Linked DNA regions of Homo sapiens. The protein of the gene in region 1 purifies or fractionates together with the protein of each later gene. This does not show direct contact. Each region holds a gene or a part of one and is shown in the gene's direction. Other genes may lie near its edges. The genes, in order: PSMF1, SHPK and RBKS.

Evidence for each region.
Region 2: the proteins of PSMF1 (region 1) and SHPK purify together in Homo sapiens (affinity purification with mass spectrometry; one large-scale study listed by BioGRID and IntAct). This does not show direct contact.
Region 3: the proteins of PSMF1 (region 1) and RBKS fractionate together in Homo sapiens (co-fractionation; one large-scale study listed by BioGRID). This does not show direct contact.

Annotation. Positions count from the first base shown.
Region 1 is NC_000020.11:1,125,051-1,128,702, forward strand, and holds part of PSMF1 (proteasome inhibitor PI31 subunit), read left to right. Parts: intron 1-447; coding exon 448-600; intron 601-2,375; coding exon 2,376-2,458; intron 2,459-3,652. UniProt on the Homo sapiens protein: Plays an important role in control of proteasome function. Inhibits the hydrolysis of protein and peptide substrates by the 20S proteasome. Also inhibits the activation of the proteasome by the proteasome regulatory proteins PA700 and PA28.
Region 2 is NC_000017.11:3,622,608-3,626,259, reverse strand, and holds part of SHPK (sedoheptulokinase), read left to right. Parts: intron 1-2,028; coding exon 2,029-2,212; intron 2,213-2,768; coding exon 2,769-2,921; intron 2,922-3,652. UniProt on the Homo sapiens protein: Acts as a modulator of macrophage activation through control of glucose metabolism.
Region 3 is NC_000002.12:27,838,283-27,841,934, reverse strand, and holds part of RBKS (ribokinase), read left to right. Parts: intron 1-3,652. UniProt on the Homo sapiens protein: Catalyzes the phosphorylation of ribose at O-5 in a reaction requiring ATP and magnesium. The resulting D-ribose-5-phosphate can then be used either for sythesis of nucleotides, histidine, and tryptophan, or as a component of the pentose phosphate pathway.

The DNA of each region.
Region 1 (3,652 bases):
TTTTGTACATCACTGCAGTCAGTTAGCGTGTATTCGGATCTGTGTTTTTAGTCAACACCTTGGTAATCCTATTGAAGTTAGCCTAACGTCCAAACTTTGAAAAACACTACTTAGAACTTCGCAGTGTTCCTCAAGATGACTGGCTTTATTCTTAGCAGTGGGATGGGGAAGAGATAATTATTAAACCAACACTGCAGATTCTTGACAGGTTCCAGTGCTGTGTCAGAAAGGTAGCTCAATATGAGGGAGAGCGCAGTAGAACAGAAGCCCAGAGACCTGGGCCCTAGACCTCTCTCTCGCTGTAGGATCTTGGGCAAGTCATTTCTCTTGACCTCCACATCTTCATCTGTGAAGTGAGGTGGGTAAGATTAGCTTATCTCGTGAGGTTCTTTATAGTTCTGTGTTTTGAGTTCATGATCTTTCTCCTCTCAACTGTGGTCTTCCCAGCCGGGTCCCAATGATAAGAAGTCAGAACTGCTGCCAGCTGGGTGGAACAACAATAAAGACCTGTATGTCCTCCGGTATGAGTATAAGGATGGGTCCAGAAAGCTCCTTGTGAAAGCCATCACCGTGGAGAGCAGCATGATCCTCAATGTGCTGGTGAGTCTCTGGGACACGTGAGTCTGCTGATGAGATGGGGATAGGAATGGCTGTTTTGAAACCCATTTAACGGTACGAATCCAGAGCTTCAATGTTCATGTAGCCCTTACCTAGTGATCCCACTTCTGGAACTTTATCTTAAGGTGAGAACCCTAAGTATAGAAAACCTTCGTGCACAAAGGTATCCACCACCTGGAATTAAGAAGGAGGGGCTTTCTGTCAACAGGGGAATGGTTAAATAAGGTAAATCTATTCAGTGACAAGATAGAAGGGAAAAACTTAGGTAACCCCAATGGGCTACTTCAGTTCCTTAAATAAATTGAATTCTTTGCTGCCTTGGAGCCCTTGCACTTTACATTTCCTATGCTGGAAGGCTCTTCCCCTCCCCCATCTGCCACTCACACAGCCCTTCACCATTCCTTCATCCTGGACAATTCTCTTTCATTTTTGACTTCCTCAAAAATTTCAGTTCTGACTACCCAGTCCTACTCCCCAAAAAAATCTAAATTATGTCTCTTTACGCCATCATTTTATTTTCCTGCCTGACACTCATTGCAGCTTGTAATTGTGTACTTATTTGTGCTTTGCTTTTATTCTGCCATGGGACTATAAGTGCCACAAGGACAGTGACTTTCCTTTTGTTAACTTTTTTCTTAGTGGTTTGGGTGTGACCATGTAGAAGTATCCTGCTGTATGTATTATACTGCACTTTGCTTTTTTTTCACTCGGTGTTTTGGAGGCAAGACCTTGACATGGAAATACATATAGATATACCTTATTTGTTTTAACTATTATATAGTTTCTCATAGCACCATAATTTCTTTATTCCTTTCCCTTTTGATGAACATTTAGATCTCGTGTCAGATAGGGTTCTTGGTTTCAAACAACAAAAACCTCTTGGGTTAGTTTAAGCAAAAAGGGTTTATTAAAAGAACCAGGATCACCCAGGCGCAGTGGCTCGCACCTGTAATCCCAGCACTTTGGGAGGCTAAGGCAGGTGGATCACTTGAGGTCAGGAGTTTGAGACCAGCCTGGTCAATATGGTGAAACCCTGTCTCTACTAAAAATATTTTTAAACCTTAGCCGGGCGTGGTCGTGGGTGCCTGTAATCCCAGCTACTTGGGAGGCTGAGGCAGGAGCATCCCTTGAACCCAAGAGGCAGAGTTTGCTGTGAGCTGAGATCGTGCCACTGAACTCCAGCCTGGGCAATAGAGCAAGCCTCTGTCTCAAAACAAAACAAAACAAAAAGAACCAGGATAGCTCATTGAAACAGGTTTAAGGCTAGGTTTCCAGAAGCAGTGTCCCAAATCATGCCCCGGAAACCACTGCTGCCACCACCACTGCCCAGTATTAGATACTGGCTGATTCTGTCTGCCCTGGTGCACCCTTCTCTTAAGCTGCTGATGTGACCCCCTGGCCTCTGTGCTACCCTCATTAGCAAGATGTCTGCCCCTTGCTGGGTCTGCATCTCCGTGTTGCTCACCTGCAGATCAAAGTTGATGCATCAGTTCAACACCTCAATTACCATGCCTGAGCCCTTTTGCAAAAGAGCCTGGGAAGTAGGTGTTTTAGTCTCTGCCTTGGAAAGGCAATATTCCTAAATCAGAGAAGTCTCCAAGCCTTAGGAAGGTATTTCATATAAACAGTCCTTATATATGTCTCTGTGGACATATGTGAATATTTCTTTAGGTTGAAGACTTTGTTACTCTCCCTTCACCCTCCCACTCTTAGCCAGAAATATCCCAGTCTCTCACTTTCTATTTTCACCCATCTAGGAATATGGCTCACAGCAAGTGGCAGACTTGACCCTGAACTTGGATGATTATATCGATGCAGAACACCTGGGTGACTTCCACAGGTACTTCTAAATGATGTCTCTTCCCTGGGAAAAAGAAGAGAGAACTAATGGCAAGATATGAGGAATAGGGTGGATGTGTCCAGAAAATTAAGGAAGGTGAATGGAAGAACCTTTTATTTCTGGGCACAACTTCCTAATTTTCTTTTCTGTTTTTTATGTATTTGAAGAGGAGACTTCCATAGGAAATGCCACATGAAACAAGATGGTGCAGTCAAGAGTCCACAAGTGCAGTGGTGGCTGCAGAGTAGAGGTGGAGCCCGGGCAACTCATTCAGTCAGAGCAGACTCCTGGGAGGATGTGTGCCTCATTGGGTCCCCAACCCCAATCTCCAACTTATTTAAAAAAAAATTATTTTCTTTAGGGTCGTTTTAGGTACAAGCAAAATTGAGCAGAAAGTGCAGAGCATTCCCATATTACCTCCTGCTCCCATACACCCACAGTTTACAGCTTCCCTGTGTCAATATCCCATACATAATGATTCATTTGTTACAACTAATGAGTCTACATTGACACATCATTATTAGGGCTCAAGCTTGCTGTTGTGCAGTCTGTGGGTTTTGACAAACAGATGAGAATGTGTGTCTATCATAGTATCACACAGAATAGTTTGACTACCCTAAAAATCTGTGCTTCTCCTATTCTTCACTCCCTTTTCCCTAACTGCTGGCAACCACTGATCTTTTGACTGTCTCCATAGTTTTGCCTTTTCTAGAGTGTCACATAGTTGGTATCATACAGTAGTATGATTCTAGACCTTTTCAGCAGATAGAGCTAGGAAAATTTTTCCTTATAAGTTTAAATTGCCACCTCTGTTTTTAATATAACACTACAGGATTCTTTTTCTCTTATTCCATACTTATATCTCCCTTCTCCTGTGGTGAGAACCCTGATTCCCAGCAGCATCAATGTATTTACTTATTTATTTGATCCTAGAATACACACAAATATTTTCTGAATTGCTACATCAGTGCCTACCAAGAACAAACCTATTAAGTAAAGTTCCAAATGACTTATTTCCAGTTCTTTTTGTCTTTTAACTATGTTCCACAAAAGATGTAGGCAGAGTAGTGTGTTCCAAAGGTACTTAGATTAGTGCTTGTTTTTAAAATCAGTATAATGAAATTATCTGTTTTATATATAGTTAAGCTGATTTATGTCTGCTTTATTCCATTATAGGGATTTTCCCCCCATCTT
Region 2 (3,652 bases), on another chromosome or scaffold:
CAAAGAGGAGATAAAGACAACCCCCAGCTAGATATATTCTAGTGAACTTTTAAGGATTTCAAAGACAGAATTCCAAAAGCTTACAGAGCAAAAGATCAGATCCCATATGAAAGAATAAGGATCAGATTGACATTAGATTTTTTTCAACAGCAGCATTCTGTGTGAAAAGACAATGGAGTAGCATTTTTTTGTTTGTTTTGTTTTTCTGAGATGGAGCCTCACTCTGTTGCCCAGGCTGGAGTGCAGTGGTGCGATCTCAGCTCACTGCAACCTCCGCCTACTGGGTTCAAGCGATTCTCCTGCCTCAGCCTCCGGAGTAGCTGGGATTACAGGCACCCGCTACCACACCTGGCTAATTTTTGTATTTTTTGTAGAGATGGGGTTTCGCCATGTTGTCCAGGCTGGTCTCGAACTCCTCACCTCAGGTGATCCGCCCACCTTGGCCTCCCGAAGTGCTGGGATTATAGGCGTGAGCCACCGTGCCTGACCAGGAGTAGTATTTTGATGACCTATTGCGGCACAACAAACTACCTCCAACCTAGTGACTGAAAGCAACAAGCATTTATCATCTGTCATGATTTTTTGGGTCAGGGGTTGGGCAGGGCTCAGCCCACTGCTGCTTCTGCATGGTGGTGGTGGAGGTTGCTTGTTAGTGTTCAACTGGTGGACAGACTGGTCCAGGGGGTCACGGTGGCTTTACTCAATGCCTGGTACCTTGGTGGGAAGGCTGGAGGCTGGGCTCACCTGGAAACGGTCTGCCGGCTGCTCTTTGCCCGTGGTCTCCTCAGCATGGCGGCCTCGGCGTAGTCGCACTTCTTACCTGAAGGCTGATTCCCCCAGAGAGACTGGTGTAAGAGGCTTGGGCGGGAGCTGCAGTACTTCTTATGACCTAGCCTTGGGAGTCCCAAGATGTGACTGCCTCCACATTCTCCTGGTCAAGCACGTCACCAAGGTGATTCTATATTCAAGGAAAGAGGATTCAGATGCCACCTCTTAATGGGAGGAGTAGTGAAGAATTTGCAACAATCGACCACAAAAAGTGCTTTTAAGCATTGAAGGGAAGGAACTTAGAACCAGACTATTATAACTAATCAAACTGGCATTTAAAGATGGGAACATGAGAAATATTTGGTGGCATCTGGGCCTTCAGACACTGCCTGGAAAGACTGACACTGAAATTGGCCTTGGGAGAAATCACTGAATAAGGGCAGAGAAAAATCCAGAGGATGTCACAAGGCACAAATGAAAAAAAATCTGACGGTCAGATGATTTTAAAGTAAATTTGGATGTCTAAAAATCAATCAGGGCCAGGTGCGGTGGCTCATGCCTGTAATCCTAGCACTTTGGGAGGCTGAGGTGGGTGGATTGCCTGAGCTCAGGAGTTCGAGACCAGCCTGGGCAGCATGATGAAACCCTGTCTCTACTGAAAGTCCAAAAAATTAGCTGGGCGTGGTGGCGTGGGCCTGTAGTCTCAGCTACTCGGGAGGCTGAAGCAGGAGAATCGCTTGAACCTGGGAGATGGAGGTTGCAGTGAGCCGGGATCATGCCACTGCATTCCAACCTGGGGGACACAATGAGACTCTGTCTGAAAAAATTAAAATAAAATAAAATAAAATAAAACGCAATCAGCTAAGAACTAAGGAAAAGAGAAAATTTACTGGTAATCAAGTAGCAGTAAGCCTAGATAATGTCATGATGAGGGTTGGAGGGACAGAGACCAGGGGACTTGAGATTGTGCCAAACATCTTCTGAGATGTGGGGAGATATGATATCAACTTCAAAAAAGAATAAAAACAAACAGAGAAGTGGGGCAAATGGAGGGAGTATGTGACGTGCCCAGGGTCCCACAGTCATTATGTGGTAGAGCCAAGTACTAAAGCCAGTGCTATCAGGACCCATAGGTGTGCCAGGCTTTATCATGGGACGATTCGCACATATTTTGTCACTCACCAGCAGAGTAGTATCAAGGCCGCGCCATGCCTAGTCATTTGCTCTTTTCTTCATTTTTGGTCATCTCTTTTGTTCCAGGCTGTGAATGGACAGAGGGAGGGATTACCCCGGTGTTCGAGCCCCGAGCTGTTAGCCACCTGGTCACGTGGCAGGATGGCCGATGTAGCAGCGAATTCCTGGCCTCTCTGCCCCAGCCGAAGTCTCATCTCAGTGTGGCCACGGGCTTCGGCTGTGCAACCATCTTCTGGCTTTTGAAATATCGGTACGGGCAACTGCACTTTCACTCGGGTGCTGGGTTTCCGGGAGAATGAGAATAGGCCGGGGCTGCGTCAGCATCACCCCGCCTGCTGGGCTGTGCCGCAGTGAGTGTGTCCTGGCAGGACAGGATGCAGCATGGCCTGGACCTCGATTGGGTCCAGAACCACGTCCTTTTGCAGAGGGCTCTCTATTGGTTATCCAGTTCCCACCCACATAGGGAAAGGAGGGAACAGAGAGGGCAAGTGACTTGCCGAGGGTCACGGGGAGAGTTCGCAGTGTGTTCAGGCCTGCGAGGCTGCTGAGGAGGCTGACGTCTGCTTTTCCAGGCTTGACACTTCCTCCTCTCAGGCCCTTCCCCTGGGGCTGACTTAGGCTGGCTTTGCTTGGGGCAGCTGGGAGGTCCTAATCCCAGGGACCCAGCTGGACTTGAGCCATAGTATATGCGGTTGTGGCTGCCACCTGGCCATGGCACAGCTGGTCCCTGCTGCCTGCAGCTAGGTGCGGCACATGCTTCCGAGTTCATGTTATACCGTGTTGGTTGTTTTTGGTATGAAAAACAGCCCAGAGTTCCTGAAGTCCTACGACGCAGCCGGTACCATCCACGACTATGTGGTTGCCATGCTGTGTGGCTTGCCAAGACCTCTGATGTCCGACCAGAATGCTGCCAGCTGGGGCTATTTCAACACGCAGAGCCAAAGCTGGAACGTAGAGACGTGAGTATCACATCCTTGCAGGCTGTTCCTCCTGCTCCAATCTGAAGGGCAACCCCGGAGCCAGTGCTTCAGTGGGTGCTTTCCCATCTGGGAGTGGTGGAGGGTTCCCAGAGGCCAGGATCAGGGTCCAGTGCCCCTGGCCTGTCCCAGACACGGGGCATGGATGGGCCCAGTGTAAGCACAGCCCTGAGCCCTTGGGTAGGGGCCTCAGCCATGCTGTCCTGCTCCTCCACAGCCGCCCAGACCCCAGGTGGGCTCTCCCTTCTCTGTGACCATGAGCCCAGTCTGTAGGTTTCAGAGTACAGCTTTCACTCTTTAATACTTAAACTTAGAGAGCCAGGCGCGGTGGCTCATGCCTGTAATCCCAGCACTTTGGGAGGCTGAGGCGGGTGAATCACCTGAGGTCAGGAGTTCGAGACCAGCCTGGGCAACATGGCGAAACCCCATCTCTACTAAAAATACAAAAATTAGCTGGGCGTGGTGGAGTGCGCCTGTAATCCCAGCTACTCTGGAGGCTGAGGCAGGAGAATCACTTGAACCTGGGAGGCGGAGGTTGCGGTGAGCCGAGATTGCACCACGGCACTCCAGCCTGGGGGACAGAGCGAGACTCTTGTCTCAAAAAAAAAAAAAAAGAAAAAAGAACTAGAGATAGTAGGCTTGAAGGATGCCTTTTAAGTTCTTTTTGAACAATCATTTGCCTTTTCAGGTACAGAAGTCCAGTGCCCTGTAAG
Region 3 (3,652 bases), on another chromosome or scaffold:
ATCCTGATCAAGCATCATTTGGTGAAAAAAATCAAAATAAATAGTAGCCACTCTAACATGATGACTTCTTGATATTGTGGCAATAGTTCTGTGATTTTTTTAAAGAATAAAATAGAGAACCACACTGACTATTTCTCAAGATACAAAACTAAAAAGAAAAAAGAAAAAGAACAGTGTGTGTGTGTGTGTGTGTGTGTGTGTGTGTTTATATAAGTGATTTCTCCCAAAGTGTGTAGTGTTCTACATAGAAATAAATGGAAAATAAGTCACTGAAATGATTTTGTGGAGAATTTTAAAATGTTCGTCCTGATTTAACAAATTTTCCTCTTGGCAAAACAACATGCTGTGGTAAATTTTCCCTGACATTTAGTGTATTTTTAATGGACATGAAGCTGTCAGAAAGAATTCTAAGCCAAAACCCATTTGGTTCCATTTTCTTGGAGTGTCACAGTAAAGTCTAATGCTTATGGTTACGCATTCTCTGCACCGTGCCCATCTCAGCAGAGTGATGTGAATACAGGGTGCCACCCTGCTCCTGCTCTTGTCTTTCTTTGTATAGATCAAAGCACATTCTCGTGTAACTTCTCTTTTTTTCCTACTATCCCTTACTGCTCAGAGATCACTGTTCCCTCTGTCCTAGTCTAGTTGCCTGTTACCTACCCTGCTTGTGAAGGAGAGAAAGATACAGCAGCCACAGTTGAGGAGCTAACCTTTCACAGGTGAGAATAGAGTAATCCGGATGGGCAGGCAGCCTACCCTGGGGCTGTCATTGGGTGGGGTCCAGAAAGGCTTCCTCCATCACCTTCCGTGTAGCTCTTCCAGTTGGGAGCTGGAGGACCCAGGACAGCAGGAAGCGGGGTAGGTGACAGTGGGCCACAGACCACTTGGCCTACTTCACACTTTTATTAAGAGCCAGCATGCCTTGGTATTAATTCTGCATGAACTTCCTTATATAATAATAGCAGAAATAGTAATACCATGCATTTATATGTACTTTACATCTTATAAAGTACTTTCGTACACATTTTACCCTCAGAAAAACCTTATGACAAAGATATGGCAGGCATTGTTCTCTCAGATTAAAGGTGAGAAGACTGAGACTGAGAGGTTAAGTCATTTGTTCAAACAGTGTCGCACTTTAAGTTGAAGAAACCATGATTTCAGACTCTAAGACCCAAGTTCTGTCTCCTAGTTTAAACCACACTTTAAAGTGCCACAACCCATTGATTCCAACAAACTGAGCCTTTATGAAGAGTATCTCTAGAAAAGTCAAGTCCATAAATTTTAACACTGTCCAGCACGTGGCCTAAGCTTTATGTGTTTTTGCTGCTCAAGAAACAGAGAAGAGGCTCTACAGTGTTTTCAGCACTGTAACCCCAATAGAACTTACACACACACACACGAACACACATGCACACAAGCACACACACTCATGTGTCCATTACTCCTCCAGTCCGGTGGCTTTCTCTGGCCAAGTCAGCTGGTCCCTATTTGGTAGATACCGGCCAGATGCAGCTTAGATTCTATTCCATGAGGAGGGTGTGTGTGTGTGTGTGTGTGTGTGTGTGTGCGCGCGCGCGTGTGTGTGTGTGTGTGTGTGTGTGTGTAATGCATCATCATTCTCATATGCAAGAAGAGTGGTATCCCAGCACTTTGGGAGGCCGAGGTGGGTGGATCATGAGGTCAAGAGATCGAGACCATCCTGGCTAACACGGTGAAACCCCATCTCTACTCAAAATACAAAAAAATTAGCCGGGCATGGTGGTGGGTGCCTGTAGTCCCAGCTACTCGGGAGGCTGAGGCAGGAGAATGGTGTGAACCCAGGAGGCGGAACTTGCAGTGAGCTGAGATCGCGCCACTCCACTCCAGCCTGGGTGACAGAGCGAGACTCCATCTCAAAAAAAAAAAAAAAAAGAAGAAGAGTGGTATAATGAAAGGAGACCATTGGTTTGGGAATTGTGAAATATGGCTTTAAATTCATAATCAATCAGCAAATGGGGGATCTCAGTCAAGTAAGTCAGTTCCTCACTCTGGACGTCATTTTCTTCTTCTGTGAAACCAGAATTGGGCTGACAGCTCTCACAGTTCTTTCATGTCACTTTGGACTGATCCCAGAGCAGAGTGGGCTTAATGATCTCTTGAGCACTGAGCACCCTACCCACTGCCCCAGGAAGCTGCCTATGTGCTGAACAGCATTATTCCGTCTTCAAGAACGATGATAAAGTCTTCATCGTCATCATCATCTATGGGTTTTCTTATCACAGTTCCATTATCTTTACTGCTTACAGGTAGTGAATTTTGAATTAAGCACATTGCATAACTAGATTATGCTAATATATCAGTTATGAAAATCCAGAGGAAAAGATCCCTACATCTTTGAATATACTGTCTCAAAACTCTCTGTCGCTATCAAAATGAAAGCATTGATTTTTAAAGACATAGTAGCTACAACACCAAAAATCGGTAGCCCTGTATAGCCACCCCCATCCCCACCAGGCCATGAAGCTATGAGGTAGGCCCACTGAAGAGCCAGTGCTGCAGCTGCTTGTGATGAAATTATGCATGTTGGTTCTGGTCTTTATATCCATTTCCAAGCAAATGGAACAGTACATAAACAATTATAAATAATTGAGATTGTAAAATTGCCAAAGTTAAATTATCAGTATGATACAAAGTATCTTTTAATGCCACTTCAGTCCTTTTGCCTTTGGCAAACAAAACTTCTTATCTGGCCATCCAGACTTTCACAATGACATTGTCCAGCACATAGCCCAAGCTTTGAGTGTTTTTGCTGCTCAAGTCACAGAAAAGAGCCTCTAGAGTAATGGACAGCAAAGCCAGTATTTTGAGTGTCCCAACATGCTCACAGTGTCTTCACTCAGGGTGATTTTCTTCCCCGGTTTCTCTGAGCTAATAATTAGGGCCTTCCTAACTGTCCAGCCCCTGCCCTCCGTGACAACACCATAAAGAGTTTCTGCCTCATTTTCCTGCCTTTTAGCCTATACAACTGCTCCTCCAGGCCTCACCAGTTCCTTATTGACATTATTGTGCTATCCATTAACATGCAGTTAAGATAACTAGGAGTTTAGTTCATCTGACACTGTAATTAATAATAATTACTGTTGGGTGCTACCAGTCACCTCTGCAACTCCAAGTTACTCCATGGTACAGTCTGTGTTCTCTAGCTCTGCCTGGTCCCAGGATGACATCATGGCTTCCACCTTGTCTATTACAGATTTGCATTCTTCTTTGATTAACTGCATCTACTAATTTATGTTTCTTTCATCATGGTGGAGTATGCTCATTTGTGGTAGCACAAGCTGAGAAGAATGCTTTCTTTATGGCATTTACACTTTTCCCCTAAATTTAGTTACCAGTCAGACTCTAAGCCTATGTATCCAGTTACTATTGAAGAATGCTGTCCCTCAGTAAAGTACAGGCAAATAAGGTTGATTTTTATACAGTATTTACAGTAAAATTATGGAATTCCTTATTCTAGCAATTGGTACCTAAATTTTAATGTAATTTTTTCCTTAAAATTTGCTTTTATTGTGGAAAATTTCAAATATATATAGACATACAGAGAATAGTATGGTAAACCTATATATACTATCATTTAGCTTCAACAGTTACCAACATGTGGCCAGTCTTT